Regions from separate parts of the Homo sapiens genome. Here regions 1, 2, 3 and 5 are each reported to be linked to region 4. Evidence: microRNA targets listed by miRTarBase, many of them from high-throughput screens and not tested one by one. Region 4 holds a microRNA gene; each other region holds the end of a gene's coding sequence.
What was found. The annotated mature microRNA hsa-miR-5695 reads ACUCCAAGAAGAAUCUAGACAG and lies in region 4 at 3,355-3,376, opposite strand. An mRNA with a match to its seed (bases 2 to 7 or 8) in the 3' UTR can be bound and repressed. Matches are read on the target gene's strand: a 7mer-m8 pairs with bases 2 to 8, a 7mer-A1 pairs with bases 2 to 7 and ends in A, and an 8mer does both.

Region 1: the mRNA of NPHP3 is a reported target of hsa-miR-5695. Seed matches in the 3' UTR shown: 7mer-A1 at 749-755.
Region 2: miRTarBase lists SDR16C5 as a target of hsa-miR-5695. Seed matches in the 3' UTR shown: 7mer-A1 at 4,139-4,145.
Region 3: miRTarBase lists RPL32 as a target of hsa-miR-5695. Seed matches in the 3' UTR shown: 7mer-A1 at 4,302-4,308 and 7mer-A1 at 3,723-3,729.
Region 5: the mRNA of LGSN is a reported target of hsa-miR-5695. The part of its 3' UTR that is shown has no 7-base or 8-base seed match.

Annotation. Positions count from the first base shown.
Region 1 is chr3:132,676,803-132,682,238 of GRCh38, reverse strand. It overlaps NPHP3 (nephrocystin 3), which reads left to right. Exons shown (of 27, transcript NM_153240.5): 27 at 149-1,630. The coding sequence ends at 329. It overlaps UBA5 (ubiquitin like modifier activating enzyme 5), which reads right to left. Exons shown (of 12, transcript NM_024818.6): 12 at 2,445-5,436. It overlaps NPHP3-ACAD11 (NPHP3-ACAD11 readthrough (NMD candidate)), which reads left to right. Exons shown (of 45, transcript NR_037804.1): 26 at 149-325. Among named protein-coding and RNA genes, the nearest start is that of UBA5, 19 kb to the right of the region's middle.
Region 2 is chr8:56,296,376-56,303,051 of GRCh38, forward strand. SDR16C5 (short chain dehydrogenase/reductase family 16C member 5) reads right to left here. Exons shown (of 7, transcript NM_138969.4): 7 at 3,630-5,198. The coding sequence ends at 5,105. Among named protein-coding and RNA genes, the nearest start is that of SDR16C5, 20 kb to the right of the region's middle. RefSeq lists an enhancer at 1-5.
Region 3 is chr3:12,831,104-12,837,779 of GRCh38, forward strand. It overlaps RPL32 (ribosomal protein L32), which reads right to left. Exons shown (of 4, transcript NM_000994.4): 4 at 3,382-5,120. The coding sequence ends at 4,991. CAND2 (cullin associated and neddylation dissociated 2 (putative)) reads left to right here. Exons shown (of 15, transcript NM_001162499.2): 14 at 362-469; 15 at 2,652-3,700. The coding sequence ends at 2,879. Among named protein-coding and RNA genes, the nearest start is that of SNORA7A, 6.0 kb to the right of the region's middle.
Region 4 is chr19:12,917,199-12,923,748 of GRCh38, reverse strand. It overlaps MIR5695 (microRNA 5695), which reads right to left and starts at 3,429; the gene lies at 3,345-3,429. It overlaps SYCE2 (synaptonemal complex central element protein 2), which reads left to right and starts at 4,456. Exons shown (of 6, transcript NM_001105578.2): 1 at 4,456-4,506; 2 at 5,412-5,527. The coding sequence starts at 4,492. It overlaps FARSA (phenylalanyl-tRNA synthetase subunit alpha), which reads left to right. Exons shown (of 13, transcript NM_004461.3): 13 at 863-1,270. The coding sequence ends at 1,001. RefSeq lists an enhancer at 4,637-4,776.
Region 5 is chr6:63,274,695-63,281,370 of GRCh38, forward strand. LGSN (lengsin, lens protein with glutamine synthetase domain) reads right to left here. Exons shown (of 4, transcript NM_016571.3): 4 at 1,257-6,526. The coding sequence ends at 5,327. Among named protein-coding and RNA genes, the nearest start is that of LGSN, 42 kb to the right of the region's middle.

The sequences.
Region 1 (5,436 bases), not on the chromosome of region 4:
TTTTACTGGTCTGCTTGAGTGAATACACTGGAAAAAGAGGGGAAATGGGCAAATATTTACAGCTTCTTTTTCTGTATCCCATAAGGTCATTTTGAATTGGTAAGAGGTTATATTCTCATTTTAAGAGTTTTTGTTTTCTCTCTCAAAGCTATGAAGGAGGAGATTTTGAAAAAGCTGCTGAATTATACAAAAGGGCAATGGAAATAAAAGAAGCAGAAACATCACTCTTGGGTGGAAAAGCTCCTTCACGCCATTCATCAAGTGGAGACACGTTTAGCTTAAAAACAGCTCATTCTCCTAATGTTTTCCTTCAGCAAGGACAAAGGTAATAGCAGCAGTTAGAATTCTTTGCAAATGTACCTTAAGACAAAATAATTAAACATTTGGAACATTTGAATTTGAAACTTTAAAAAAATGTTGTACGAAATTTTACTACGTGTGATTTAACTGCTATTTGTATGAAGTTGTATTGGATTACATTAAGTTGGAATTGTGATTATGTCTGTTTTAGTTGTTTAAAAGAATTTTCCTATTATATGGTATCCAAGGATGTAGACACATTAGAATTATAAGAAGACATGAGGAGCAAATCATGAAGAGCGGATTGGTCTTTGTTCAACAAGAGCTGGCAGAGTAGTTAAGACAAGGAGTTCAAAAATTCCATGAATCTTGGCCAGGCATGGTGGCTCATGCCTGTAATCCCACCACTTTGGGAGGGTGATGCAGGAGGATCACTTGAGGCCAGGAGTTGGAGACCAGCCTGGCCAACATGGTGAAACCCTGTCTCTACTAAAAATACAAAAAAAAATTAGCTGGACCTGGTGGCGCATGCCTGTAATCCTAGCTACTCAGGAGGCTGAGGCATGAGAATCGCTTGAACTCAGCAAGTGGAGGTTGCTATGAGCTGAGATTGTGCCAGTTCATTCCACCCTGGGCAACAGGGTGAGACTCTGTCTCAAAAAAAAAAAAAAAAAAAAAAAGAATTCCATGATTCTTTTGAGCTCTCAAGAGCTACTTTAGCCTTGCCATTCCTCTTGCTTTTCAGCAGTAGTCTGGCCCAATTCTCTACCTCAAAGGAAAGTTTCAAGGATTAAAGGGTTAATGTTTATGAACGATTCAAATTGTCTTCAGTGAAACACATTAGTCACAAGAATCCCTGATTGCTGCACTTTAAAAAATTCTTTACCTTTTCCTTGAGCAGATTGGTCCAGTCCCTCTGCTTTCTGTTCTGTCTACATTGTGTATTATTTATTACTATATAGTATATGTATCTGCATAATGTCTGAAGTCATTAATGCAGTAACAGGTCAAGCTCTTTAGCATTCTTTGACTTTTCCCAAAATATAGATATGACATTCTCCTTTATCTTCCTTCTTAGATGGCCTAAATCTGTCTCTTCATTTACCTCAAACTCAAATTAGTATGCCATTTTCATACTGAAAATTAAATATTTTTATGGATTTTATAAATATTGCAACATTTTAGATATTGTTTTGGACCATTTGTGTATTTATATATAATAAAATCATCAATTTAATACTTGTAAGATCCTAACATGTATTGATTGTAAAAGTGAAATATGTAATAGCCACACTTCACTGTTTTAAAATAAAAGTGCAATTTCAAGTTCTTTTTTCCCCACTCTAGTTTATACAAGAGGGCTGTTTTGCATGATTTTTAAAGAAATACGTTGAACTTTTTTTAGAACTTGAAATGGACCGGGCGCGGTGTCTCATGCCTGTAATCCTAGCACTTTGAGAGGCCAAGGCGGGAGGATCATAAGGTCAGGAGATCAAGACCATCCTGGCTAACACGGTGAAACCCCATCTCTATTGAAAAATACAAAAAACTAGCTGGGCGTGGTGGCACACACCTGTAGTCCCAGCTACTTGGGAAGCTGAGGCAGGAGAATCACTCGAACCCGGGAGGCGGAGGTTGCAGTGAGCCGAGATCACACCACTGCACTCCAGCCCGAGTGAGACTCCATCTCAAAACAAAACAAAACAAAAAACAAAACCTTGAAATGTTGTCAATACTTGCTGCTCAGTAGTTTGCTCAGCTTAAGGTTTTGGTTAATGTTCTCTTAAGGCCGAGTTACTATTCACAGGGTAGTCCACAAATCATTGTCACCACCACCTGGCAGCTTATTAAAAATTCAGACTCTCAGGCCTCTCCCCAAACCTACTGAATGAATCTGTATTTTAGCTAGATCCCAAGGTGACTAATGTGCACATAAGTATGAGAAGCAGTGGTATAACTCTACGGCACTATAGTGGTAATTTAAAAAGAAATGAGGCAGTATATAATGAGCATCCTTCTTCCTCCTTTGGGAGTAGTTCAAGAGGGAAAAATAGAAGATAAACTATAACCATAACATACCTTTCTGGGTTTGGCAGCTGTGAAAGACACAAAGTAATTGAAAACACAAATATACCAGACAATGATTTTAGAATTAAGCTGTTAGAGCTTAGAATTTGATTATTTAGTGGTACAAGTCATTTAATACATAGCAAGTAATGTGTTCGGTTTATCACCTTAGAAAAACTGCTTTAGAAAATAATGAGACCAGTACTCTAGAAGAACCCTGATAAAAGGAAAAACTACCTTAAGAATATTATTTATTCTTTGTACCTCCAAAATTTGTGCCTGAATAACTGTAGTTGGAGACATGATCACTCAAAATTATGTATTCCAAAAGAATGAAATTTAAACATAATAAACTATTTTGATATTACTATTTATTTTACTACCAACCCAAACGTTCTCATGTAGAATGCATACTTAAGAAGATAAAAATAGCTGGAACATCTTTGTGTATGCATATTTGAAGTTCTCAAATAGGAATATTTTCTTCACATTAATATGCACTTTCACAATGAAAAAGGTAGCTTTCAGACAACTCAATTATAAATCTGAATTGTTAGAGTACTTATTCTAGTTATAATTTTTATTCATCAATACCTTTTTTTTTGAGACAGAGTCTCACTCTGTTTTCCAGACTGGAGTGCAGTGGCACTATCTCAGCTCACTGCAACCTCTGCCTCCCAGGTTCAAGCGATTCTCCTGCCTCAGCCTCCTAAGTAGCTGGGATTACAGTCACGCACCACCACGCCCGGCTAATTTTTGTATTTTTAGTAGAGACGGGGTTTTGCCATGTTGGTCAGGCTGGTCTCGAACTCCTGACCTCTTGACCTACCCACCTCAGCCTCCCAAAGTGCTGAGATTACAGAAAGGGAAATATGAAAAAAATGTGATGCAGGGGTCAAAGCTTCCTTTAGTAAATATTCTTGGCTGGGCGTGGTGGCTCACACCTATAATCCCAGCACTTTGGGAGGCCAAGATGGGTGGATCACCTGAGGTCAGGAGTTCAAGACCAGCCTGGCCAACATGGTGAAACCTCGCCTCTACTAAAAATACAAAAATTAGCCATGCGTGGTGGCGGGCACCTGTAATCCCAGCTACTTGGGAGGCTGAGGCAGGAGAATCGCTTGAACCTGGGAGGCGGAGGATGTGGTGAGCTGAGATCGTGCCACTGCACTCCAGCCTGGGCAACAGAGTGAGACTCTGTCTCAAAAAAATAAATAAATAAATAAATATTCTTAAGTGGCCATTACGTTTTTTGTGTTGTTCAGTGTACGTATCCAGGGAGTATTTTTATGAGAAGAAACTAGTAATACTTATTTTCTCTACAACATTTAAGTAGAACCATAACTAACTTCCCATTAACAATAAGACAGGAATTAAAGTTGAATATGTTGTTTTACTATCATTTAGAGTCTCTGTGCTAAGCCAATTCTGGGACTGCTTTTCCATCTTTCACATTAGAATCAATAGTGTTTACAAATCTGGACAAATGCTATGAGTTTAGTAATACTAAATTCAATGATGATTAATTTTTCGTAATCAGCTGCCTTCTTATGCAAGTTTTCATGGCATACAGACTGTCAAGAGAGTATTCTAGGATAGCAACATCTCTATTACCAGATTTTTTTTCTGGTTAAATAATCCAATTGTTTTTAATGAAAGATATTAGACAAAAAAAGTTAGGTCAATTAGGTAACATTTGGTGCAGTGTAAGACACAGGCAGTGATGCAATGCCAACTTGAGAGCAGATAAAAGAAGACAGTGAATTCTAGATGTGATACTTTATCAAATTGTAAAATTTTATAAAACCTTACTAAATTGATATGCAAGAATTTCCAAAGGAAATTTATTTTTGAAAAACTGCATTTCATTTTTTAAATTCAAAACATCTCTCATACTAGAAAAGCTATTTTACAGTTCAATAAGCTAAATTTTTAAAAAATGATAGAAGACTCACCAAGGCAACATAAATAAGTTTCCAGGCTAAAAAAACTATCCTTCTGCTTTCCAGACTTTACTATAAACATAAGAATCACAGTATAATCCTAGCATCTCAAAACTAATATATTGAAAACATTTGGTAGTTGAGACTTTCTGAAATCAGTTTTTTGAACTTTATTTTACAATCAGGGATGTACTTTTAATTTTTTACAACATTTTCTCCCTAGAGATATAATTTAGATATTCCTATCTTCAAAGTAAAAATCAAAATAGGAAATAAGCATAGAAACAGCCTATTGGCAGTGGTTACACCTGCATGGTATTTATGAGTCTCCAAACTATTGGAAATTTATTTCAACCAAGGTTCTCTTAAGTCTTCATTACTTGGGTGTAACTCGAGAGAAAACTAATTTATATCAATTTACAGTTTAGTGGTCATGATCAGGGGAAAGTGATACTCTTCCACTGACTACAAGTCATTGCAGAGGCAGTTTAGAACTTTTCCTTTATTCCTAATATACAGGACAAACCTTGCCGACATCTCACTACCTCGAAAATCAAATTTAAATGAAGTATCCAGGAGTAGCCTAAAGAATGAGTGTAATCTGGATGGATTTTAGTCTAAATTTATGCCTTGCTCTTCAGTAAAGTATAGTAACTCCAGATATATGTTCCACAGATGCAATAATTTCTGTTCCTTGTTCGGTGCAGAATATAATTTATACTTCCTGAAATCAACTTTGTCTATTCATGAAAATAGCTGCTTTTTATTTGCCTTTGTCTCACTTTGAATATATATGATCCACAGGTTACAGACTTTTCCAATAACTACATTTCAACTTGTACTTCATCAGCAAACATTTGAGAGGATGTTATTTCATAGGTTAACTATTTTGAATTCATTGTTGATCAAGTTAGTAGTAGTGGGCAATTTTCTTATAGAAAGCAATTCCAAACATAATGAGCAGATGCTTGCCAGCTCTAATCAATAAGCTGTATGCCTTGTCCTTCTCCCTGTATCTGAGGATCATATACTACTTTATTGTCCATGTCCTCATGCAACAGACACAAGGGATTACTGGAAAGAAAAAGATTACAGGATCAGATTTGTCCTTCCCCCACTCCAAAAG
Region 2 (6,676 bases), not on the chromosome of region 4:
GCTTTCAGTCTTAAAGCTTCGTCCAAGCAAGATCTGTGGCAGTGGTTTAAACGGCCAATGAGGAGGATGAAATAAATACACAAGAAGCCAATTGAGTTATTGGAGCCAATTGTATTGCAAAAGTGAAGACAGCCTTGACACAGGCTATAATTCTTCTTCCCTCTAGTTTGAGACTATACAATCTGTGTAGCCTTGAGAGAGAATATAGTCTGCAAAGCTCACCTCAGCTGCGGGGAAAATGTTAAACAACAAAGAACCCTCTAGGTTCATGGAGGACAATGGACAAGATGGCATATCACAGAGTAGAAGCAAGCAGGGCTGCCTGAGAAAGGAAGCACTTGTGATTCCTGCCCAGCAAAATCCCATCACTGTGGACCATCACTGTGTTTCTTCTGTCCCCTTCCTGGTTTTGAATGGAAAGTCTCCTGGCCTCCCCTCATTCTGCTCCCCTCCCTCTTCCCCTTCTCTTCTCCCCTTCCCTCGAATCCCCTCCTCTCTTCTCGTCTTTTCCTTCCCCTCCCCTTCTCTTTTCTTTTTTTTACCCCTCTCCTCCCCTTCCTTCCCCTCCCTTTCTTTCTCCTCCTGTCTCCTTTCCTTCTCATTTCTGACTCTAATCATGGCTATTCTGCTTCTCTGCACCACTGTATGTAGAGTGAGATGGGGGTGAATCACTCACCTTGTCTCTTCTTGGTCATTCGGCCATGAAGAGTCATATTAGGATCTGATGGAGGGTGCTGCCTAGCGCCATAGGTTCTGGACTTCTAGTGACCTGCAGTGACTGGGCAGATCTTTACAGTGGAGAGGGTCTGTGCGTTCTGTCTGATTAGAAGAGAATACATAAATGTATGGGGAAGACTGTGGCAGAAACTTTTAAGTTAACATCCAACATCTGGATCTTATCTTTTCCCACAGTAATAGGATCCCTGGTGTTTAGGTGGCTCAGGGTGGTGCAAAATAAAGACCATATTTCTCAGCATCATTTGAGGGCTGCTTTAGTCATGTGATGAAATCTGACCAATAGGATGTGGTGTTTTGGGGTGTGCAATGCCCACAGATTGTACTGAAAGAGTGCAGGGGTGCCTTATGCCCTCTGGGGTCTTGCGGCCTGGAATGTGAGCATAATGGCTGAGGTTTCAGTGGTCACTGTAGATCACACTTATCACTGATGTTCAGGACGTGAGCCTGCATAGCCGAGCAAATGCACAGAAGGAGCTTGGGTCCCTGACTCTGTGGAGCACCCTACCAACCCTTAATGGCTACCCCAAGGCTTTTAAACATAACGGAGAAACACACTTCTACTTTCTTCAAGCCCTTATTACACTGGAGTTTTCAGTTACCCCAGCTGAATGAAATCCTCGCTGACAGAGCAAGCAAGCCTTGATGCAGAAAGAGTGGCCAGGAAACTATTGCCCCGGCAGGGAACTGACAATGAGAGTCTGAACTAAGGCAATAGCAGTTGGGATGGTGAGGACAACATGCTAATGAGGTCGAGAGGTAGCACAGACTGGATTTAATTACTGATTGGACAAGGAGATGACAGATAAAGTAAAAGTAGAGCATTATACCTGGGTTTCTAGCTTGGATGGTGTGGAGGAGCAATGGGCATGGTTAAGAGTCCTCAGAAGGAATCTACAAAGTCAAAGAAATCCAAAGATAGAAACTTGAAGAACACAAACAATTTAAGGAGTGAACAGCAGAAGAGACCAGTAGGTAGAAGTGTCACCAGGACCACCTGCTTGAGAGATTAATAATGTCAGTCATGAGAAATAAAATCTCATGAGGAATGAAATCCCTGGGGATCTTTCCATAAAAATCACCATGACATGGTAGACATGAAAGCTGGGGGGCTTAGAAGCCAATGTGAATCAAAGAGATGGACAAATTACCTGAGGCTGCATTTTACTTATTTTTTATTTAATATTTTAGAGACAAAGTCTCACTCTGTCACCCAGGTTGGGGTACAGTGGTGTGATCATAGCTCACTGCTGCCTTGAACTCCTGGGCTCCAGCAATCCTCCTACCTTAGCCTCCTGAGTAGCTGGGACTACAAGTGTGCACCACCACATCGGGCTAATATTTAAATTTTTTGTAGAAACAGGGTCTTGCTGTGTTGCCCAGGCTGGTCTTGAATTCCTGGCCTCAAGCTATCCTCCTGCCTTGGCCTCCCAAAGAGCTGGAATTACATATGTGAGCCCTGCTCCCGGTCCAACATGGTTCATGAGCCTGGAATGTTGAGGGTGCCTAGCACCAGACATGTTCGTCCCAGAGCTGCTCTGCATGGGACGTCTGGCTTCACAACAGTTTTTGTCTGGTGGCCCAGATTTTCAGTCATATTTTTCTCAAGTGCTGACTCTGGCAGGTTGGAATTAATTTCTTTCAGGCATTCTCAATTCACTCTGCCTCCAAGATTCAGAATTATTTCATCTGATGAACTGTGACCATCTCAGCATGAGGACTCTAAGGAGTGTAAATGTCATTTGTGGTCTGGTTTTTTTCTATCTTGGCATCTGTTATGGACTGCATGTCTGTGTTACCCCAAAATTCATATGGGATGATGTGGGACTTTGGGAGGTAATTAGGGTTAGATGAGGTCAAGAAAGTAGAGCCCTTATGATGGAACTGGTGTCCTTAGAAGAAGAAATATGTCTTTCTCTCTCTCTCTCCACACACACACACCAAGGAAAGACTCTGTGAAGACACAGCAAGAAGTTCTCCACAAGCCAGCAAGAGAGCCCTCACCAGAAAATGAACCAGCTGGCACCTTGATCTTGAACTCCTAGCTTCCAGAATTCTGAGAATTAAATTTCTGTTGTTTAAAGTACTCAATTTGTGGCATTTTGTTATGGTGGCCCTAATGGACTAAGACAGCATCACAATGTAAAACCACACACACACACACACACACACACACACACACACACGGCATGACACACATTTTTACCCAGCAAAACTCCATCTTACACCAAGAATTCTTCTCTGCTTTGGAGCAGCTCAGTGAGTACAAGATGCTGGAAGATGCGCCCTGCAGGGCAGAATGCCCAGGCATGGGGCACAGCCCTGGCCCTGTGTCCTTCTGTTTCCTCAGCCTGGCTTAGGTGTTGGGCTCTTGGTCATGGCTTCATTAGGACTAAATTTTGATGGAAACGGGCATGACACACATGCCAAGAGCACTCCTTGCTCCCCAGGGCATTAAATCACCTTGTTATTTAGTGCCCTCTAGAATCCACTAATTTACATGTGGTCTCTTCTCATAGAAGCATCTCAAGTAAATCTGAATTTGTTTAGACAATTTTATGGGTATTTTAAAACCACAATTGAATTTCAGGCCTTTGTCGCAGTCCAGCCAAGATGCACTCCAATTAGAAATAATTGCTATTAATGCTGTTATGATGTGGAGGATGCCTGCAGTGCTCCTGGACCTTTGTTGTACTGAATCCCCGAAGAGTCTGAGCTTTATTCTTTAACTAAATAGACAGGACCCTAGAAGATACGCTTCTGGAATTGTAATATTACAGCAATATTGTGCTTCTCTCTTAATTAACCTTGTTAACCAAGGATTTGGAACATCAGTGGGTGACTCTGAGAGGGCCTTTGATCCTCTCAGTATACATCTACAGTGGAATAAGATGTCACTGTGAAATAAAACGCCTTTATTCTTTGGCATACACCAAATACCTTCATCATTCTTTGAGTAATGATTGACAGTCTCGTTTAATGAAATAATGTTTGTCAAATACTTAATTTGCTGCCGGGCACAGTAAATGTTAGTTATGATTGTTATAATATTATCATAAAACAAGTTTTTTTTTTTTAAGGTTTTCTGAATGGAAAGGAAATACAGATCAGGGCTGTCATGTTCGTGCAGGCCACTCAAGGTAAACCATAGTGGATTCCAGAGTTTACACCCCCTGAGACTGCTGCCCCTATGACAGCATTTTACCCCCAAGATAGTCAAATTCTCAATTCTTTAGACTTTTACCGGGTCTCCCAAGGTACCGCTCATCCCCTCCTTGCTCCCCACAAGAGGGAAGAGACAAAGGCTGCTGTTTCTCTTGCAAGGCTGCCCCCACCAGCCTGAGAAGGAGTTCCAGGGATATGGTAATTAACATATTTTTCTTAATCTTGCTTTTATAGTTAATCTCCAAAGCATGAAAGCACTTTGCCAGTTGATTAAACTGTAAGAATACAATAGATCCAAAGTGAGGGCAGCACTGATGAATATAAATGCATAAAATTGCCCATTCTGCAGGAAAATGCCTCAACCTGAATCCCAACTTGAAATACTAAGTTGAACACTTAACTTTAATTGCACGAATATATTTTTTGGATCAATAGATAGCAAAAAACCTAACTTGGTATAATTTCATCTTCAAAGTAAGAAGCAACCACTCTTTGATCTCTTCTAGGAAACAAAAGTGATTCTATTTAAGAGTTTGGTCTAGGATCACTGCCTATGAGGGGGCTTCAGGGAATGCCCGGTAAGGCTCTTGGGCACAATAGTGCTGGATGGGCCTTTAGCCAGACTGCCACTCGGTCTGCGTATCCAGGGCATTCAGAAGCATTTGTGTAGCTGTTTTGGAAAGAAGGGCACTGGAGGCGGGCCTTTTCTACATTAGGTGGTACAGGTTCAAAATGGCCAGAGAGGATAGCAAGGGGGTAGAAATCCAGAGCTGTGTGTCCTCTGGAGAGAGGGCATTCTGGCTGGATATCCACATGTCCTCTTCGCCCCTCAGCCCTGCTCCCCAAGGCAGGTCAACCACAGCCGCTGGCTCCATTTGAGCCACCTCCCCAACGACCAAAGCTCAGGGCAGCTCATGGCCATGGCTTATCACTTTCTTACATCTGTGGTAATGGAAATGACAAAAATGGGCTGTCTTTATTTTTGGAAAAAAAAAGAAAAAGAAAAAACCAAAACTCAACCAAATAGGTGATAGCAACATTATTTTCAAACACATTGATTGAAAATTCTAGTCCAGATAACAGAATAGGAGTGGTACTTGTGGTCTCCAGATATATTCCACTGTCAGACAAAAATACTTTTCTTCATTGAAGTACGCATTATGTAACACTGTGTATCAGATGACCTTAGCCATAGAGTTGGTCTTTAGAGCTTCTTCTTTTGGTCAACAAAGCCATCCATTGCATGAAGGATGCCCAAATAGTCAGCTATAAGCAGTCCTGTCTTGAGGGGCAAAAAGCTAAAGAGAACACAAGAATAAACTTTCTTTATTATCATTCATGAAAGCCTCTTTACCACCTCTACTGAAAAGCAGTGTCACCTCTTGTGGCAGATGAAGTCACTCACTCATGCACACACTATGCAGCCTGAGTGCTACCCGCCTCAGGGTCACTGGGCCTTGTTCACTATATCCGGGGACACTCGCCCAGGGCCTTGACAGGTCTTCTGGCTTAAGTTATTCAATTCACTTCTCATTTCGGTTTCCAAAGCATCACTCCACTGTACAATGACACAGAGGAAGCAGTGAAGTCTTGTCCTGTAGGCATGCGCTTTGGGGGCAGATGAGCCTGGCTGGAATCCTAGCTCTGTCATTTGCAGTGCCGCCTTAGGCAATCGACTCAGCTCATAGACCTCAGTTTCCTCAACTGTAAAATGAGGTCATCAGTCTGCCTTTCTGGCGCTACTGTGAGGATGAGATGCAATAGCTCCTCAAACCTTGGGCAAGACCCAACTAACACTGTCCATCTTCTCCATCCACACCTGCCCCTCTGCAAAGCCATATACATGCATGATCATCATCCCAACAGAGCACTCTGCTCCACTGGCCTTTGCATTCAATACTGCAGAGCAAGGAAACAAAGCAGGCACGGGAAACCTGAGACTCATCCTAAGGTGGGGGTAAAGGAAAGGACCCCATGCTCCTTGTTCCCCTGTTTGGGCACCCCAAGATCTCCAGGTGGTTCATCCCTCCCACAGCTTCAAGTCTCTGGTCAAGTACTACCTTCTTTATGAGACTCCCTCCACCCACCAAACACCATTCTTAAAATTAATTCTCACCGGCCGGGCGCAGTGGCTCACGCCTGTAATCCCAGCACTTTAGGAGGCTGAGGTGGGCAGATCACAAGGTCAGGAGTTTGAGACCAGCCTGGCCAACATGGTGAAACCCCATCTCTACTAAAAATACAAAAATTAGCCAGGTGTGGTGGTGCACGCCTGTAATCCTAGCTACTCAGGAGGCTGAGGCAGGAGAATCACTTGAACCCGGGAGGTGGGGGTTGCAGTGAGGCATGATTGCACCACTGCACTCCAGCCTAGGCAACAGAGCAAGAGTCCATCTCAAAAAAAAAAAAAAAAATTAAATCTCACTTAGATGTGGTGGCTCATGCTTGTAATCCCAGTGCTTTGGGAGGCTGAGGTGGGAGGATTGCTTGAAGCCAGGAATTTGAGACCAGCCTGGGCAACATAGCAAGACCCCATCTCTAAAAAAATAAAAATAAATTAGCTGTGCATAATGGTGCACAACTATAGTCCCAGCTATTTGGGAGGCTGAGGTGGGAGGATGGCTTGAGCCTGGGAGTTTGAGGCTGCTGTGGGCTATGATCAAGCCACTGCACTCTAGCCTGGGTGACAGAACAAGACCTTGTCTCCAAAAAAAATTAAAGAGTAAAATTAAAAAAAAAACAACAACGTAAATCTTGGCCGGGTGCAGTGGCCCAT
Region 3 (6,676 bases), not on the chromosome of region 4:
CAATCCAGTGGCCCCAAGCTACATGTTTGCACTCCCACCTGGCCACACTCAGCCAGAGCTGCCCCAGCAGCCCCCTTCACTCATCCCCAGCATCTGCCTGACTGGTGGGCATCTGAGCTTGAGAACGACTCCCTCCCTGGTGCTTTTCTGATCCTCCTTGGGTCATCCAAGTGTAGTTGGCAAAGAAAGTGTCACCATTTGAGGAAACAGACCCAGAGAGGGAGAGACTCTGGCAGGACTTCACGGTGGTCTGAACTTGGGCTTCAGGTTTCAGTTGTGGGGCCTCTGCTCTTTCCCAGGGCTGGCTGCTGCTCTTGCTCCTGCACCATTTCACTAAGAACCATCTCCTTCCTCTGGGCAGATGCTGACCTTCATCATGGTTGCCCGGCTGGCCACCCTGTGTCCTGCACCTGTCCTGCAGAGGGTGGACCGACTCATTGAGCCACTAAGGGCCACCTGCACTGCCAAGGTAAGTCCCTGGCCCAGCCCTAGCCCAGGCCCTGGAGCACCTATGGAGTCCTCGGCCAGTCGTTCAGTTACCCTTACTGAGCACTTCCTGCAGTGCAGGTGATGTTGTGAAAGTGCTTCATTTAATCATTGTCATTGCCCTATAAAGTACCTCTTATTATCATTGTATACACAGGGGAACAGAGGCTTTGAGAAGTTGTTATTGGCCAAGGCTACACAGCTAGTAAATTGCAGAGCTGGATTCAGACCCACCTCTGTCTCTCCTTCCATTCATTAAACACTTCCTGGGTGCTGAGCCTCGTGGGAGATACTAAAGATGTAACATTGAGCCTGATAGGTTCCCTACTGTCAATCTCTCACCTCCTTGTTGGGAAGCTGGGTCAGATGACTGGTCTAGGACAAAGCTGCTGCTAGACTGGAGTGCCTGAAGGGTCTGGAGGAGGGATGTGGGGTGCAAGCCCTCATGGAAAGCTGGCGTTGGGAGCAGAGCCTGGCGCACCTACGTGGTACCTAGTAAATACCTGTTGAATGAAAGAATACATTTGGGTTTTTTAAGGATGGGAATCATTACCAAAAGGAGAGCAGTGTTTTAGGTTGGCACTTAAAGAGGAGAGATACCCATAAAGTGGTGATTTTCAAAAATGAAATCTTCTGTGGATAAAACACTAAAATTGGTAGTTTATTCATAGAAACCTGCCTTGTAAGTTTACATTTTTAACATATGCTTATTATTGAGTCCATCCAAAAAAACACTTCTACAGGGCCAGGCCAGTTTTGACAGTCTCTCATTTCTGGTTTTCTCTGAGCTCTATGGCACCAAGAAAAGTCCCAGTTCTTAAGAGGGAGGTATATATGGCACTGCAGTGCCAGAACATTCTTGCAGTAAAGCCGAGGTGGCAAGAGAAGCTCTGCCCTGAGTTTCCACAAGAGCCACTCATCTGGCCACGCGGAGGATGCTGTCTGTTGGGCATTGGGATGAGCATGGGTAAATCCACACCCACAGTCCTTACCCATGACCCTGAAATCTACCAAGCTCTGACAACCAAAAGCTTTTTAGGAACCTGTTTGTCACACAACTTGACTTGAAGTGGCATGAGGCTATGATCTTTAATTCTTACCAATGTACCACTTTTATATAAGGGACTTGATCATCTGAGGATTTTGGCATCCCCTGGGATCCTGGAACCAAACTCCCATGGATACTGAGGGACACCTGTACTACTCACATTACTCATACATGTAGTAGAGTATTCATGTATTTGATTACAGGGTATTGTACAAAACCCCTCGGGAATGTTATCTGCACAGTATTACCTTTCTAAAACCCAAAATGTCTTGGATTCCAAAGCACATCTGGCTCCAGGGGTTTCAGAGAAGGGAGTGTGGACTTGTGTCGTTTAATCCTCTTGGCAACTCTTACGACGAGGCAGCTCTTACTTATAGATGGGGAAATGAGGCTCAAAGATGTAGTTACCTGAAGTCACAGCTCTTGGGGGCAGAGCCATTTGAACACAGGACTCTGCAACTCCAATGCCAAGCTGTTACCCACTGCATTGAATTCTTTAGGAAGAGCCCAGCATAATAAGGAACTTGAACTTTAGTCCATAAGCAGTGGAGGAATTACTGAGCTCCTCTGCCTAGGTAGGAGATGGTGGGGGAAGAGGAAACAGAAACTGCAGGAGGTAGTTTGGGGTGCTTACACTCCGGCTGCATCTGCAAAACTGATTGCGGGGCAGGGACTTGAGTATGGGGAGGAGGCTGCTAGAAGACCATCGCAGTGATCCATTCATTCAGTCTAGTCATATGGTGCTAAGAGCTGGTTTTAAGCACAGCAAATATAGGCTGGATCCCTGCAGTCTGTAGGAGGTAAGTATGGGAACACAGTACTTGCCACTGTCAATTAACAAAAAGCGAGCACTTCAGATTGGCTGCTCAGAGGCCCCTCAGGCTGTACTCAAGCTGATTTGAATGGCAAAGAACCTCTGTGGGGAAACTAGCCAGTGCAAAAGCCCAGAGGTGGAGTTAGGAAATAGCTGGTGAGACAGAAGCCTCAGGAGACCTCGCAGCAGGGATTTATGTTGGGGAAGATGATGGGGCAGAGAGGAAGCCAAAGACCAGTGAGGAGGCAGTGGTGTGGGCCAGGCTCAATAAAGGATGGCTGCTTCTGCTGTTTCCTACTTTAGGTCAAAGCTGGTTCTGTGAAGCAGGAGTTTGAAAAGCAAGATGAACTGAAGCGCTCTGCAATGAGGGCAGTGGCTGCCCTGCTGACCATCCCCGAGGTGGGGAAAAGCCCCATCATGGCCGACTTCTCTTCCCAAATCAGATCCAACCCTGAACTTGCTGCCCTCTTTGAAAGCATCCAGAAGGATTCCGCTTCAGCCCCCAGCACAGACTCAATGGAGCTCAGCTAGTCCCCTCAGCACCAAGGTGGGCCCTCGCTTAAGAGAAAGGAGCCCACCCAAGTCCGAGGCCTCCCCATCCCACCATCGCAGGTCTCTACTTTTGCCCTTCCACCATCTCACTGGGGGCCCTGTCGCTCCTGGTCAGGGCTTACAGTGCCTTCTCCAGGGACCCAACTCAAAGGCCCCCAGCCCAAGCTGTGAGGCTGCCAACAGTTGGGCCCCTTCCTTAACTCAGGACAGTCATCCAAAGAAATAGGGTGAGGAAGTTTTCCAGTGACTTCACACTGTACCCCTCCATAGTCTGTCTGGTTCCTTCAGAGGGTGTCTCTGCCTCACAAACTAGTAGTATTTAGAAATAGGCTGTGCTGTCAGCTGTAAAAGATCAGGAGGCAGCAGACACCACTCTGGTTTCTTCACTGCATTCAGCAATGCCTGAAGTTAGTGCTCAGGCCGGGCATCTCAAAAGAAAAGATACTTGAGTTATTCACATTTTAAAATTCAAAACGGTTCATTTTTAAGTGGCAGTGATGAATCAGAAATTTGGAAGATGATACGGGTTTCTTTTTTCCAGGGAGGAGGAATGGGTTGGGTAGGGAACTGGACAGGCTTGGACCTCATGTTTCATTTCTAATTTCAAAATACTTATTAGCAAATTGGGCAACAATGGGCATCTTCCATGCCACCACCCAGGCATAACCAGTTGGTTTGTTTCCTTCTGAGGAAGGTTTCAAATGTGTCTAGTGTTCAGTATTGAGGACAAAGAAATACAAGTGGCAGGCCCAAGTATTTTCTGTGATATCCCAGGTTAATAAAGATTAGATTCTAAGTTACTTCTTTCCTCTGCACGACTCGTCTCCAATTGTTAATCGAATCGCCTGAACCCAGGAGGCAGAAGTTGCAGGGAGCCAAGATCAAGCCACTGCACTCCAGCCGGGGTGACAGAATGAGTCTCAAAAACAAAATCCCAAAAATGACCAGTTTGCATTATAAATATTTATGACTAGGTTTTGAACAGGAGACAATCTGTAAGATTCCTGTCTAGACTAGAAGTAGAAAAGCTTTATTATACCCAGCGCAGCATTTCTGCTAAGTTGACCAGGATGGTTACAGAAAAACATCCTGTAAGCATTTCTGTCTCATAAGTACCACATCCCATATCCCTCATGACCTATATACTACAGAAGATGCCTGTAATCCCAGTACTTTGGGAGGCTGAAGCAGGATTGCTTGAGCTCAGGAGTTCGGGAGCCTAGGCAACATGGCTAGACCACCTCTACAAAAAAACTTCAAAAACTACCCAGGTTTGGAGGTGTGCATCTGTAGTCCCAGCTACTTGGAAGGCTGAGGTGGGAAGATCACCTGAGCCTGGGGAGGTCAAGGCTGTAGTCAGTGTGCCACTGCACTCCCAGCCTGGGTGAGAGCAAGACCCCGTCTCCAAAAAAAATCAGGACCACGTGTCACTAAATTCTGAGTACCAGTCAAGAGGCTCAATTGTCACCAGTTAGGTCCCCGCCTTGGCAAACTGCTGTAACATTATACCTGAAGCAGCAGCTGGTGGGAGGGTTATAGGAGACTGAAAGTGCTTTTCCAGTTAACCGTGGTGGATTACCTGGAAGAGCAATTTGTACATCATCCTGTTCTTTTTGGACAGAAGTTACAGGATGCAATTTAGGCATCCCGTAAGAATCTGTGTAAGAAATTCATCTGGATATTTCCATGCATATTTTCTCAATTCTCACAAGCATCACATGGAATAACTTGTCACCTAACTTTACAAAAGCAAGGCTAAGAATGACTACTTGTGGCTTGGGAGCCACAAGCTTCTTCAAGTGTCTCAGAACCTACCTGGTGTGAGGGCCAAGTCTGTACCCCTCATACCCAGCCTCAACTGGAGATGACTAAGGCTAGTCTGTGCACTTGAGGCCACATTCCCCTGTTCAAGGACTGAGTGTCCTTTACAAATCCCCTCCAAATGGGAGATTCCAAAGGGGCTTAAGCAAAAGAACAATCTCTGTGGCAAACTAAGTTGGCCAAGAAGCTGAAGACTTAAAATCAAGGAAGGAAGATGCCAGATGGCAGTTTTTACATTTATTTAAACAGAAAACGTGCACATGAGCTGCCTACTCATTTTCTTCACTGCGCAGCCTGGCATTGGGGTTGGTGACTCTGATGGCCAGTTGGGCAGCTCTTTCCACGATGGCTTTGCGGTTCTTGGAGGAAACATTGTGAGCGATCTCGGCACAGTAAGATCTGCAAGAGAATCAAGTAGGTAAGGAGCAAGACAGCCCTCAACACACTTGGAAAATTCCATTGGAGAGGCAATGAGTCCCAGCACCAAGCTAAGAGAGGGCTGCTTGGTAAGTGGCTGTGGAATGACACCTACATGCCCCCAAATCCTGACTATGGTTCCCTGGTGGTGACAAGAATGCTTTCATTAAAAAGTACCCTCATTGTCCCCTCTCATCCTTATAGCAGCCTTGTAATCCAGGCATTACCTCCATTTTACAGATAAAGAAACCAAGGCCCACAGCAAGCAATGGACAGGGATCCGGGGCGAACCCAGGCCCACACTCCAGGTTCAAAGGTTCTCCCCCAGTCACAGGGTGCTTGACCTTGCCCATGAAGGTTCAGAACTCTTTGCAAAATGGTCAAGAGCAGAACCCAAGAGTCTGAATGGAGCCAAGAGCACCTGGTTTGACTGCTGAGGATACAAAGCAAGTTGAGAAGCAACAATGCTTAAAGTCACCCAGTCATAGCCATGCCTATTACCTGAGGACTTCAGATCCAGTTCTAACTCATTCCTCACAACTTTTTAAGAGGCAGCTACACTGTGCCCCATTTGATAACCAATAGGCCTAACAAGCACACTTCAGTAAGGAGGTGATTTATGAAGCCACCCACAGTGGTTAAGAACAGACATTCCACCCCTAAAGCATTTTCAGCAAAGAGAGAAGCAGCAGGACTGTGAGGAGTGATTGAGGCAGTGGACACACAGCTCTTTTCAAGAACCCTGCCTTAACAGCAAGACAGCAAATCCAGACAATTCTTGTTTTATATGAGTCCACTCAAATTCAAAGCAATTGTATTTTTAAATGTTTCTACGTTTTAAAGACTTAGGTTATATTACACTTCTCATCTGTCTTTACTTTTCAAAAAACCCTCCTGTCCTTGTCCATCTATATATTTGATAATCACAATCAGAGTGTACCCACCATTTTAAATGTGTCCCCCCTGGCTTGGGCATTTTCCACACTACAACACTCGAATCATTTTGAGTGGACCCACAACATTTTATCCAGCACTCTACAATTCTCTCATTATATTTTCAGTTGTTTCCAGTGGGTTATTGCTGCAATGACTAGCTTTAGTTTGCCTGCTTTTCCATTCCTTAAGGACAAATGCCCAGAAATGGAACTTAGAGATCAAACGTCAAAGAGTATTTCTATGGATCTTAAAGACTGCCAAGCTGCGCTTACAGAGCATATGCCAACCAGCCAACATGTGCACTGCAACTGAGTAATCATGTTGGCCATACAACAGGTATTGCCTGTTACAGTTCAACTCATACAGCCAACTGTGGTTTCAGTATCCACCATTAATTCCTTCGCCCATCTTTTCTAACAGAAATTTTCAGCATTTCAACGCCTGGTTAAATTTCCAATCTTGGAAGGTAACCACGTTAGAATACTGGTCTTGTTCATTTTTATTACTTGTATCTACAACCACTGTAGGTGAAAGTTATCTTTGTAAACGTAAACACAAACATCCTAGTTAGTCACACACACTCCATGTTCTTTCTAGTTTAC
Region 4 (6,550 bases):
AAGCACTGTGGGTGGCTGAAGCAGGTGCATCACCTGAGGACAGGAGTTCGAGGCCAGCCTGGCCAACATGGCGAAACCTCATCTCTACTAAAAATATAAAAATTAGCCTGGCGTGGTAGCAGGTGCCTGTAATCCCAGCTACTTAGGAGGCTGAGGCAGGAGAATCGTTTGAACCCAGGAGGCAGAGGTTGCAGTGAGCCAAGATCATGCCACTGCACTCTATTCTAGTCTAGACAACAGAGTGTGACTCTGTCTCCCGTCTCTACTAAAACTACAAAAATTAGCCAGGCACTGTTGCGTGCGTCTGTAGTCCTAGTCCTAGGTACTCAGGAGGCTGAGGTATGAGAATCACTTGAACCTGGGAGGCGGAGGTTGCAGTGAGCTGAGATTACGCCACTGCACTCCACCCTAGGTTACAGAGTGAGACTCTGTTTCAAAAAAACAAATGCACTCAGCAAAAGAAGACAGAAGTGTGTACCAGGGCAGTAAGTGGTATAGGGAGGGCTAAGGCAACTACGTGGTCAGTGAAGGCATCATGGAGGAAGAAGTGCCACCTAAGCAAAATCTAGAGGTAGATAAAGAGGTAAACCATGAGAGTATCTGGGGAAGGGTGTCCCAGGTAGTGGTCACAGTCAGTTCAAAGGCCCAGAGGTGGGAATGTGCTTTTTGTATTAGGAGAAGAGTGAGGAGGCTGGTGTGGCTGAAGGCGGAGGGTGAGAGGTGATAGAGCAGTTGGCGCAGGGCCCTGTGGGTCATGGGGAGAACTTGAACTTTTCCTCTGAAGAAGATGGGAGCCATGGAAATCTGAGCAGAAGGGTGCACGTGCTGACCTCATGATAAACTCTGTTCCCTCCCCCACAAGCCCAACGATGATCAAATATGGCATCAACAATATCCGGGAGCTGGTGGGCCACAAGGTGAACCTGCAGATGGTGTATGACAGTCCCCTGTGCCGCCTGGATGCCGAGCCGAGGCCCCCTCCCACACAGGAGGCTGCGTGACATGGGCCACTCTAGGACAGGTCATCCTCCCCGAGTCCCTGCTGCTGCGCTCCTTTGCATCCCTGGCCAGTGACCTTGTATTTATGAGGCCTCTGTGAGGCCAGCCCCCACCTTCCTCTTTCCCACCTGTCCCAGGACCAGAATCCCAGGGACAGAGGACTGGGTAGCAGGTTCCTTCTGTTGTCCTGTGTGGTGTGTCTACTGTGAGGGTGGGCCCTGAGGAGACCTGTGGGCCACCTATTGTCTAATAAAGTGGGCAGTTGCCCCCATCTGGTGGCTTTCCTTAGGGGTGAGGGGTCTTGTTGGGTCCCCCTAGCTCAGTGTGCCACTTGATGGTCAAAATTCTGGGTACTGGGCTGGGCGAGGTGGCCCGCGTCTGTAATCGCAGCACTTTGGGAGGCTGAGGCGGGCGGGTCACGAGGCCAGGCGATCGAGACCATCCTGGCTAACAGGGTGAAACCCCGTCTCTACTAAAAATACAAAAAAAAAAAAAAAAAGTATGGGTACTGAGCCAGGCACAGTGGCTCACTTCTGTAATCCCAGAACTTTTGGGAGGCCAAGGTGGGTGGGTCACTTGAGGTCAGGAATTCAGGAGCAGCCTGGCCAACGTGGTGAAACCCCATCTCTACTAAAAATAAAAAAATTAGGGCTGGGTGCGGTGGCTCATGCCTGTAATCCCAGCACTTTGGGAGGCTGAGGCGTGTGGATCATGAGGTCAAGAGATTGAGACCATCCTGGCCAACATGGTGAAACCCTGTCTACTAAAAATACAAAAAATTAGCCGGGCGTGGTGGCGGGTGCCTGTAGTCCCAGCTACTCAGGAGGCTGAGGCAGGAGAATGGTGTGAACCTGGGAGGCGGAGCTTGCAGTGAGCGGAGATCGCACCACTGCACTCCAGCCTGGGCAATAGAGCAAGACTCCGTCTCAAAAAAAAAAAAAAAAAAATTAGGCTGGGCGTGGTGGCTCACGCCTGTAATTCCAACACTTTGGGAAGCTGAGGCAGGCAGATCACTTGAGGTCAGGAGTTCGAGAGCAGCCTGGCCAACGTGGTGAAAACCCGTCTCTACTAAAAATACAAAAAAAAAGCTGGGCGTGGTGGTGAGCACCTGTAGTCCCAGCTACCCGGGAGGCTGAGGCACGAGAATCGTTTGAACCAGGAGGTGGAGGTTGCAGTGAGCCAAGATTGTGCCACTGCACTACAGCCTGGGTGACAGAAGAAGACTCTGTTCCAAAAAAAAAAACAAAAAACAAAAATTAGCAGGCATGATGGCAGGCACCTGTAGTCCCAGCTATCTGGGAGGCTGAGGTGGGAGAATCACTTGAACCCAGGAGGTGGAGGTTGTAGGGAGCTGAGATCACACCACTGCACTCCAGTCTGGGCCACAGAGTGAGACCTGTCCCCCAAAAACAGAAAACAAAAATTAGCTCAGCATAGTGGCTCATGCCTGTAATCCCAGGTACTCCAGAGACTGAGGTTGATCACTTGAGCCTGGGAGGTCGAGGCTGCAATGAGCCGTGATTACACCACTGCACTCCAGCCTGGGCAACAGAGTGAGACCCTGTCGTTAAATACATATTTATGTGTCTAAATAAACACAAGTACCCTGGAATCTTGCCATTTCCATCAAATCTGAACTTTGGCTGTGTAGGGGTGAAGAGAAAGCTTCCTTATTGCCCTCTGAAGTTTCACTAAAAATTACTGAGAAAAGGCAGATTAATAAGAGAAAAGGAATACGAATGTATTTGATCATAGTGTTACCTGACAAGCCTTCAGAATGAAGATCCAGAGATACAGGGGAAACTGTGTTTTTGTTTTGTTTTGTTTTGAGACGGAGTCTGGCTCTGTTCCCTGGGCTGGAGTGTAGGGGCGATCTTGGCTCACAGCAGCCTCAGCTTCCCAAGCAGCTGGGATTACAGGTGCCCGCCACCATGCCTGATTAATGAAAAGTGTCTTATGCTTAGGTTCAGCAAAGTTTGAACACCCAGGTAGAAATTTGATTGGACAAAAAGGGTTTGTCGTGGTTCATACTTGTAATCCTGACACTTTGGGAGGCTGAGGCGGGTGGATCACTTGAGGCCAGGAGTTTGAGACCAGCCTGAGCAACATGGAAAAACCCCATCTCTACTAAAAATACAAAAATTAGCTGGGCATGGTGCATCTGTAATCCCAGCTACTTGGTTGGCTGAGAATCGCTTGAACCTGGGAGGCCAAGGTTGCAGCGAGTTGAGATCTTGCCACTGCACTCCAGTGTTGCCTGGACAACAGAGCAAGACAAAAAAAAAAAAAAAAAAAAAAAGCCGGGGGGGTCGTCTAATACTAATAGGCTGAGTGGGGAAACCCAGCAAGGCCTATCTGTCTAGATTCTTCTTGGAGTCTCAGGAATGCATGCTCAGAGAGGCCAAGAAGAATCTAGATAGATAGGCCTTGTGTGGGGCAGAAACTTCTTTGAAACGGGGGTCTTATGACCTACAGTCAATAGGGTAGATCAGATAATTTCTTCTTTTTTTGAGACAGCACTTTGGGAGACCAAGACGGGAGGACGGCTTGAGCCCAGGAGTTGGGGATCAGCCTGGGCTCAGCACAGTGAGATCTCATTTCTACAGGAAAAAAAAATATAATTATGTGTGTGTGTGTGTGTGTGTGTGTGTGTATATATACATACAATCTTTTTTTTTTTTTTGAGACGGAGCTTTACTCTGTCACCCCGGCTGGAGTGCAGTGGCATGATCTCAGCTCACTGCAACCTCTGCGTCCTGGGTTTAAGCAATTCTCCTGCCCCAGCCTCCCGAGTAGCTGGGACTATAGGCGCCCGCCACCACGCCCGGCTATTTTTTGTATTTTTAGTAGAGACAGTTTCACCATGTTGGCTAGGCTGGTCTCGAACTCATGACCTCAGGTGATCCACCCGCCTCGGCCTCCCAAAGTGCTGGGATTACAGGCGTGAGCCACCGCGCCCGGCCAGAAAAATATTTTTAAATTAGAAGGGCCTGGTGAATGACACTGCTACTCAGGAGGCCGAGGCAGGAGGATCGCTTGAACCTGGGAGGTCGAGGCTACAGTGAGCTGTGATCGCACCACTGCACTCCAGCCTGGGCGACAGACCAAGATCTTGTCTCAAAAAAAAAAAAAAATTGTTATGGAGTATATTTTCCAAGGCAGAGTGGATGAAGTTAGAAGCACCGAATAAATACAGGACTCTGAGATCCGTATAACCTGGGCGCCCCGTGGAACCCAGGAGCCTCACAGGGGCACACAAGCGCACCCAGAGCGCGCCGTCCTGCTCCCAAGGGGCGCCGACTGCGCGCGCAGCCCGCGGACCGCGAAACTGCTGCTTAACGGTCGGCCCCGCCCAGTTGGCCGCGCAAGTTCTCAAAGAGGGCGGGGCCGGGAGCACGCGTCACAACACACTCGTCCGCGGGAGCGCAGCTGGCCAGGGGCGGGGTCGGCGCATGCGCAGAGGGTGCGAGCTTGAAGGCGGGAAAATACGGAATGGAGCGACAGGGAGTACGCGGCGCTTGTTTCCTTCTCGCGCGTGGGGCGGGCGGACAGATAGGCAGGGAACGGCTGCGATCCCAGCCATCTCCAGCGGACCCGAGCCCGGCCGCTTGTCCTTTGCCATTGGGGCTCCCTCTCATCAGGCCTGGCCTCAAATTTCCTGACTGACTGAACCCGGCCCTGACTGACGCACTGACGGGTCTGATTTCCACACATGGCGCGTGGCCGGAACGGAGTAGAGAAAGGCACAAACACCCACGCACCGCACCCGTTTCTTTCATTTCTTTTTTTTTTTTTTTTTGAGACGAAGTATCACTCTGTCGCCCAGTCTGGAGTGCAGTGGCGTGATCTCGGCTCACTGCAACCTCTGCCTCCCGGGTTCAAGTGATTCTCCTTCCTCAGCCTCCCGAGTAGCTGGGATTACAGGCACGCACCACCACGTCAGCTAATTTTTGTATTTTTAGTAGAGACGGGGTTTCACCATATTGCTCAGGCTGTTCTCGCACTCCTGACCTCGTGATCCGCCCGCCTCCGCCTCCCAAAGTGCTGGGATTACAGGCGTGAGCCACCGCGCCCGGCCTCATCTCTTTTCTCCTACCTCTTCTCCTTTCTCGAAGGACTCCAGCCAACACACATACCAGTTAGGAGCCCAGGTCCTCCAGTTACATTCCCACAGCCCTGCCCTCACCCGGCCCCTCTAGGTCTGGTGTCCTGGTGTCCCCTAGGGACAGAGTGTCCTTTCACCCCATGCCCCTGCCCTCATGGCACCTGCCCCAGCCCTGCCCGTCTTTCCTGCGGGTCCCCACCGTCCCGCAGCAGCACATCGAGGTGACCAGGGTTGAAGGGTCGGCAGGAGGGCGATCTGTTCACTCCTCATCCTCCCTCCTTGGCCTCCGTCCTGACTGTGCTTGCAGGTGGACGTGCCCCATGTGAAATGCAAAGACCAGGAACCGCAGCCCTTGGGGGAGAGCAAGGAGCATCCGCGGTGGGAAGAGAACTGCGAGGAGGAAGCTGGTGGAGGGCCAGCTAGGTGAGGAAGATCCCAGCCCTATGGGTCTACACAGGCCCCTGGGTCCCTCTCATTCACCCTTTTCTTCCACAAGGCTATGCCAGTGTCTGCTGCTTTTTTTTTCCCTCCTAACACAGCGTCTTGCTTTGTCACCACGCAGTGGCATGATCACGGCTCACTGCAACCTCCACCTCCCAGACTCAAGTGATCCTCCCACCTCAGCCTCCGAAATGGCTGGGACTAGAGGCGGGCCAGAATGTCGGGCCAATTTATTAAAAAATATTGGCCAGGTGCAGTGGTTCACACCTGTAATCCCAACACTTTGGGAGGCCAAGGCGGGTGGATCACCTAAGGTCGGGAGTTTGAGACCAGCCTGACAAACATGGAGAAACCCCGTCTCTACTAAAAATACAAAATTAGCTGGGCATAGTGGCACATGCCTGTAATCCCAGCTACTCAGGAGGCTGAGGCAGGAGAATCGCTTGAACCCAGGAGGTGGAGGTTGCAGTGAGCTGAGATGGCGCCATTGCACTCCAGCCTGGGCAAAAAGACCGAAACGCTGTCTCAAAAAAAAAAAAAAAAAGCCAGGAATGGTGGCTTATGCCTGTAATCCTAGCACTTTGGGAGGCCGAGGGGGGTGGATCAAAAGGTCAAGAGATGGAGACCATCCTGGCTAACATGATGAAACCCCGTCTCTACTAAAAATACAGAAGTTAGCTGGGTGTTGTGGTGCACGCCTGTAGTCCCAGCTACTCGGGAGGCTAAGGCAGGAGAATCGCTTGAACCCCAGAGGCAGAGGTTGTAGTGAGCCGAGATCATGCCACTGCATGCCAGCCTGGTGACAGAGTGAGACTCCGTCTCAAAAAAAAGAAAAAAGAAAAATTTAGTAGGCCGGGCACGGTGGCTTACGCCTGTAATCCCAGCACTTTGGGAGGCCAAGGCAGGCAGATCATGAGGTCAGGAGTTTGAGACTAGCCTGGCCAATATGGTGAAACCCTGTGTCTACAAAAATTAGCCAGGCATGGTGACAGACACTTGTAATCC
Region 5 (6,676 bases), not on the chromosome of region 4:
ATACAGAGTGTCCACACAAAGGTTCTCCAAGTCCCCACCAGAGTAACTAGATCCAGAGTGTCGATTGGTGTATTCACAAACCCTGAGCTAGACACAGGGTGCTGATTGCTGTGTTTACAAACCTTGAGCTAGATACAAAGTGCCGATTCGTGTATTTACAATCCCTTAGCTAGATATAAAGGTTCTCCACGTCCCCACCAGACTCAGGAGCCCAGCTGGTTTCACCCAGCGGATCCCGCACCAGGGGCTGCAGGTGGAGCTGCCTGCCAGTCCTGTGCCACCAGCGGGCACTCCTCAGCCCTTGGGTGGTCCATGGGACTGGGCGCCTTGGAGCAGGGGGCGGCCCTCGTCTGGGAGGCTGGGGCCGCACAGGAGCCCACGGAGTAGGGGGAGGCTCGGGCATGGTGGGCTGCAGATCCGGAGCCCTGCCCCGAGGCAAGGCAGCTAAGGCCAGGCAAGAAATTGAGCACAGCAACTGCTGGCCCAGGTGCTAAGCCCCTCACTACCCCGGCCGATCGGTCGCTCCGAGTGCAGGGTCCTCCGAGCCCACTCCCACCCAGAACTCGCGCTGGCCCTCAAGCACCGCGCGCAGCCCGGGTTCCCGCCCGCGCCTCTCCCTCCACACCTCCCAGCAAGCTGAGGGAGCCGGCTCCGGCCTTGGCCAGCCCGGAAAGGGACTCCCACAGTGCAGCGGCGGGCTGAAGGGCTCCTCAAGTGCCGCCAAAGTGGGAGCCCAGGCAGAGGAGGCGCCGAGAGCAAGCGAGGGCTGTGAGGACTGCCAGCACGCTGTCACCTCTCAATGGCAGCAAGAGAAATTGGGAAGGTGAGGTTCTGACTTCTACTTTCTGAGACAAGAGCCCAAAGAAGAGGGATTCCACAAATCTAAGAGAGCTATTGAAAGGTTCCACATGGCTAAAAAGCATGACAACTTCACCTTGCTCTTTTTTGTTTTTGTTTTTATTGTTGTTGTTCTTTTGATCCCCATCAAGCTAATCAAATGGTGTTTACTCAGGAGTTTCTAGAAGCAGAAAACCTGAAGAAGTTCTAATGGCAGAAATTGCAGGATCAATAAAAAAACACAAACTGTTGGACTTCTCCACTGTCTCTATTCCTCCCTCTCTCTGGGTAGGTGAATTTGTGTGTTTTATACTGGACAAGCATAGTATTGTACTATGCTAATAACATATGCATTGATTGATTAAACATTAATTGAATTCCAGAACATATGCAAGGAACAAGAAGTATTAATGCAAATGTAAGTAAGATCTGTACCTTTTATTCTGAGAATTCACATCCTAATTAGCAATTAGGAAGTATCATGTAAACCCCTAATTATAGGCAGCATGAGAAGAGCTTTAACAGGGAAGGCACTGTGCACATAGGTAATGTTTAAAGACACAAATTCTTACCCCTGTCATAGAAAACCCAAGGTTAAAGGTATTGTCCAGTCATACCTATATCATAAACATATTGGTGAGTGTATTTTGTCAAACAGGTGACTGGAGATATGTCAATAGACTGTTCTGTTTTACTGATAAGCTCAGACTTCACTGTATGCTTTCAATTTTTATTCAGATTAAAGTTTTTTGATCTTTCATTGCCTTCAAATAATCATTTCAAGCGTTGTTGTTATTCACACACTGTAAAATGAAATTTTAGATTATAGAATGTCCTTGAAAATAGAAACTTGTTACTACAATACTAATGTTTTAATTTCTAGTCTTAAAATATTATCGCTTTTAATTTACATTTCTTATGTATACTCATTTAATTACCAACTTTAAATTCAGTAATCACATTTTTCCCCTAAGCTTTGATTAGAACAATTATAGTAAATGAAAATAAGAAAGCAATTTTTGTAAAGCTATTTATAAGGCACCCTTTTCGAGCCATAAAGAAGCTTTCCAAATAGCTTTTTTCAGCATTAGGTCTACAAAAAAAATTATTTATGTTCTGCTTAAGATACACAGATCCAAAACTCTTTCATTGTCTGCTCATCTTTGTTTTGGTCTCCCCTAGTATGATGGCTCCCAGCTGAAGGCTTAGCACACAAATGGTGCTCAATAAGTGCTGCTGAATGAATGTCTGACCCTCTTAACCCAGACCAAGAAGGTAGAAGCATCAGCAGAAAGTCCTTTCAACAATAGAAAGCCTATGAACAGATGAAAGAAATAGAAAAATAGATAACTGATTTTTACATGTACCTACCCCAATTTGTCTTTGGCCCTGAACTCTGCTGGCCAATGCCTCTTTTTGGGTTGCCTTAAAGAACAAGAATATACATCAGCACACACCTAACTGAAATCTTGGTGGAAACTGCCACACCAACTTACGTTATCAACTGATTTGTAATCTATGGCTGAATATTTTCTTTGACTCACGACTGTACACTTAATACTGAAGATAATATTCCTAGTTATATAATTCCTTCACATGGCATCCTGAGTACTGTGTTTTTAAGTTATGCTAATAATGCGAAAGGGGAAAAAACGGCTTCAAACACTGTGATTATCAGACTTTTTACAGCATCTTTACTCATTATGGTAAAATGAAGTCAATGCATTAGACATGTTTCATTAAGGCCCGTGGACTATAAAGGGATATGCCACTTTATAGGGATGGGTTAGAGCCAATCCCATTTTTTGGATGTGTGGATCCCTTTGATTAACTCAGATTATCCTCTCTAGAAGTGGGAATATTGAGGAAGTCGTCTTTCACTGGTTCTTATACCTTTGTTCTTTCATCCCCAAATCCCTCAAATTCCCCACTCATATGCACACACTCACACACAAACACACATACAACACACACATGGAAAAGAGAAAATAAATTTCATTGCAACTAACAAAGAATCAAAATCATTGTGGCTTAAAGAAGATAGAAGTTTGGTTCTCTCTCAGGTAAACATCTGGATGTAGGCAAGTCAAACTGCTCTACAAAGCAGAGATTCCACCTTATTACTGTACCCTGTGGAGCAAACCTCCCTTCCCAAGGACATAATCCTAGCCACATTATCTGTAGGCCACTCAGCAGGAAGGGTGAAGGCAGCAAGAGAAAGAAAGGGCAGAGCACACAGCATCCGTCATTTAAAAAAATGTTCTAAAGTGTGGTAGGGCATGGTGGCTCATGCCTGTAATCCTAGCACTTTGGGAGGCCAAGGCAGGCTGATCACCTGAGTTCAGGAGTTCAAGACCAGACTGGCCAATATGGTGAAACCCCATCTCTACTAAAAGGCCAGGCATGGTAGCAGGCACCTGGGATCCCAGCTACTTGGGAGGCTGAGGCAGGAGAATTACTTGAACCCAGGGGGCAGAGGTTGCAGTGAGCCAAGACCCCCCCACATTGCACTTCAGCCTGGGTGACAAAGCGAGACTCCATCTCGGAAAAAAAAAAAAAATACAAGAAAAGAAAAGAAAATGTCCTAAAGAACTTATATGCAACACTTCTACTTTCACCTCTTTGCACTGAACCTAATAACATGACCACATCCAACCTTAATGAAGGCTCAGAAATATCATTTCATTTTTCATTGCTTTCAAAGAACATATTGAGGTTTTATTACTGAGAACAGAGGGGAAAATGAACAGAGGGGAATTTTCTAGCAGACAGCTAGAAAATTGGCATGAGAGTCTTCCTTATCCCTCCCATGATGTAATGTGTGGGATTTCATTCTGGAGGTTTCAGGACAGGTTCCCTTCCTTCCCCCAGCTACCCTACACTATCTTTCTCTCTACCCCATATGCATCCATGAATTTTATTCTTCTCTTTTTTTTAAGACAGTGTCTCACTCTGTCACCCAAGCTGGAGTGCAGTGGTGTGATTATGGCTCACTGCAGCCTGAAACTCCCAGGCTCAAGCGATCCTCCCTTCTCAGCCTCCCACGTAGCTGGGACTACAGGCATGTGCCACCATGCGAGGCATTTTTTTTTTTTTTTTTGTAGAAACAGGGGTCTCACTATGTGGTCCAGGCTGGACTCAAACTCCTGGCCTCAAGCAATCCTCCTGCCTTGGCCTCCCAAAGTGCTGGGAACTTTCTTCTTATGTATCCAAACACACTTCTCCTGCTCAAAGGAAAAAAGAAGGGAGTAATTAGTGAAGGATAGACTGACTTTCACTATTTAAGCTACTGAGTAATATGAATTTTAATAAGAGGATCTGAGCCAAATTCTAATCCTCTGCTTGTGCAATTGCTATCTAAATTGAGACTACAGTCAGTTTTAATTGAACATAAAATCTGCTGTTTGATCCTAAGCAGTAGAATAATGTTTCATTTGCTAGTAAGTGGATTTTGGACTTCTTCCCAAAAGCAGCTAAACTTTTGTGATAGTTACAATATTATCTCATTCAAACAAAGGCCTGGAACAGGTAATATTCTCTGGGGAGGTACCAACCTCTGTGAGCAGCAGATTCAGTAATTTGAATAACAAACTTAAACTCCAAACATAGCCCTGGCTAGCCAGGCAGTTGTTCTCACACTCCACAGAGCACTAGAGGTTTCAGAGGAACATCTAGTTTCAAAGAATGAAGCAGAGTAGACAGAGCCCACCTACCCTCACACACAAACATCTTTCTATCTATACTTTGTGTATTGAACTTCTATATGAGGCATTGTTAAAAGAAAGGCTTTAACTACTTTTAAAATCTGACCTCGTTGTTCTCAGCTCCAATTCTATTCCTTAGGGATTTGTTTCTTGAGGACATTATAACCTTGAAGTTCATAAGCTTTTCAGGAGCTAGTGGAGAAGGGTGAAAAGAGAAGAGACTTAGGGGAAAACTGCCTACCTGTCATTATATTTTGGCAAAAGTTTATTTAACTTGTTTAGAAAGACCATAATGGTGCATACAACCTGGATTCACAATATTATTTGATTAGCGAGACTATATTAGTATATTTGTCTCCCTGGAAATCATAACCTATGTGTACCATTAAAATTTTTTCTCCTTTTCTTTTTTTTCTTTTTTAGTCATTTAAATTTTGCTTTCTAATGCTTAAGTCTTTTTTTTCTTAATGTGCGAATATATTTATTGCCACCCAAAATTGGATATTCTTATCCAGGTCAACATACACATAGGAAATGACTGACAAGATCTGGTAAGTTTGCATATTATAGCTTCACCACAACTTTGTTGTTTGTTTCTGTTATCAGAATCTTCTCAGCAGTCCTACTTCATCTGTCAAATATTCCATGGACAAAAAAAAAAGTCAAAAGCATTCGTAATCTTGTTATTGTTGCTGTTGTTAATTACAAAAGTTCAGTCTTTTTGTTTTGGTAGATTAGCTTTAAGTAACAATTACATGTCTAAAGGAGTAGTTGTGAGCTCTATTCTAAATAAAATACTCTAAGAATTTATTTCTCTCTGCAGCTATTTCTTCATTCTCCAACTCATATTTCTTCATGGCAACAAAATATCGAATAAAGGTTTCTCCTAGAGCCTGTCTCAGGCATTGATCTTCTTCCAGTGCCACAAGGGCATCTTCTAGTTTTAAAGGGATCTCAGAAGGTTCCACTTGGTAAAAGTCTGTGCTCTCATCTGGACCAGCCAAGACCTCATTACTGCTATGAAGTCCATCTAAGCCGGCAGCAACAGTTGCAGCCAGCACCAAGTAAGGGTTTGCTGTTGCTGAGCCTAGTTTATTTTCTATCCGGGTGCCTTTCTCTCCATGACATTTGATATTAAATATACAGCTGTTGTCATTGTATCCCCATGTTGTAGGCACACTCTTCTTCAGGTCTTTCCTGTCCTTGGAATAACGCTTTCGGCAGCTAACAGAAGGCGCCATCAGGCAGCTGAGCGCAGCAGAGTGCTTCAAGAGTCCTGCCAACCATTTTTTCCCAGTGATCGTGAGCTGCTCAGTTCCAGAAGTGCTGCAGAACATGTTTTTCTTCCTATCGACATCCCAGAGACTATGAGACAAAATCCCTGAATCACAAAATCCAGTCTCAATGAAGAAGCTGGCAATGTAATTATATTTCCTTGCCACTTCTTTGACACCTGTTCTGAGGGTAAATGCATTATCAGCTGAGCTAATGCCAAATTCAGGCAGGAAAGAGATTTCCATCTGACCAGGCCTGGTAGAGGAGGAAAAACTCTCGACATTGGCTCCAGTGTGATACAAGCCATCAACAAGTTCCTGCATGAAGGGCTGATCATGGTTATTTAAAAATGTTAAAGCAGGAAAAGATATAATCTTTGAATTTAAAATTTCGGGCACACCAAAAATGCAAAAATCATAGATGAAAGCAGAAAGCAGGGAAAAGCCAGAGGCCTGCAGATGGCTCAGCTGCCTCTTTGCAATGTACCTTGGGGAAGTCAAAAGAGGCTCACCAGTCACAGTGAAGGTATCACATATCACTCTTGCAGTTCTGTCAGCCCATGGCAAAACTCTAAAGGTTGATAACTCTGGCATTAGGACTATGTCGCTATTAAAACATGTGGCTCTTATGTTATTCATTTCATTGTCCTTTGGATTTGGTATCACTTCAAGATAACCTCGGGGCATGCAAACACCATGGCTCACTTTCTCCTAAAGAAGGAAAAAAATGAAGAAATTAGGTTTTGAAAACAAACAAAAGGGTCGGGGGGCGGCGGGAAAGCCTTGCTAATGAAAATATATATATATATATATATATATATAATAAATATATATATATATGTTTAACACTTGTTGGTTAAC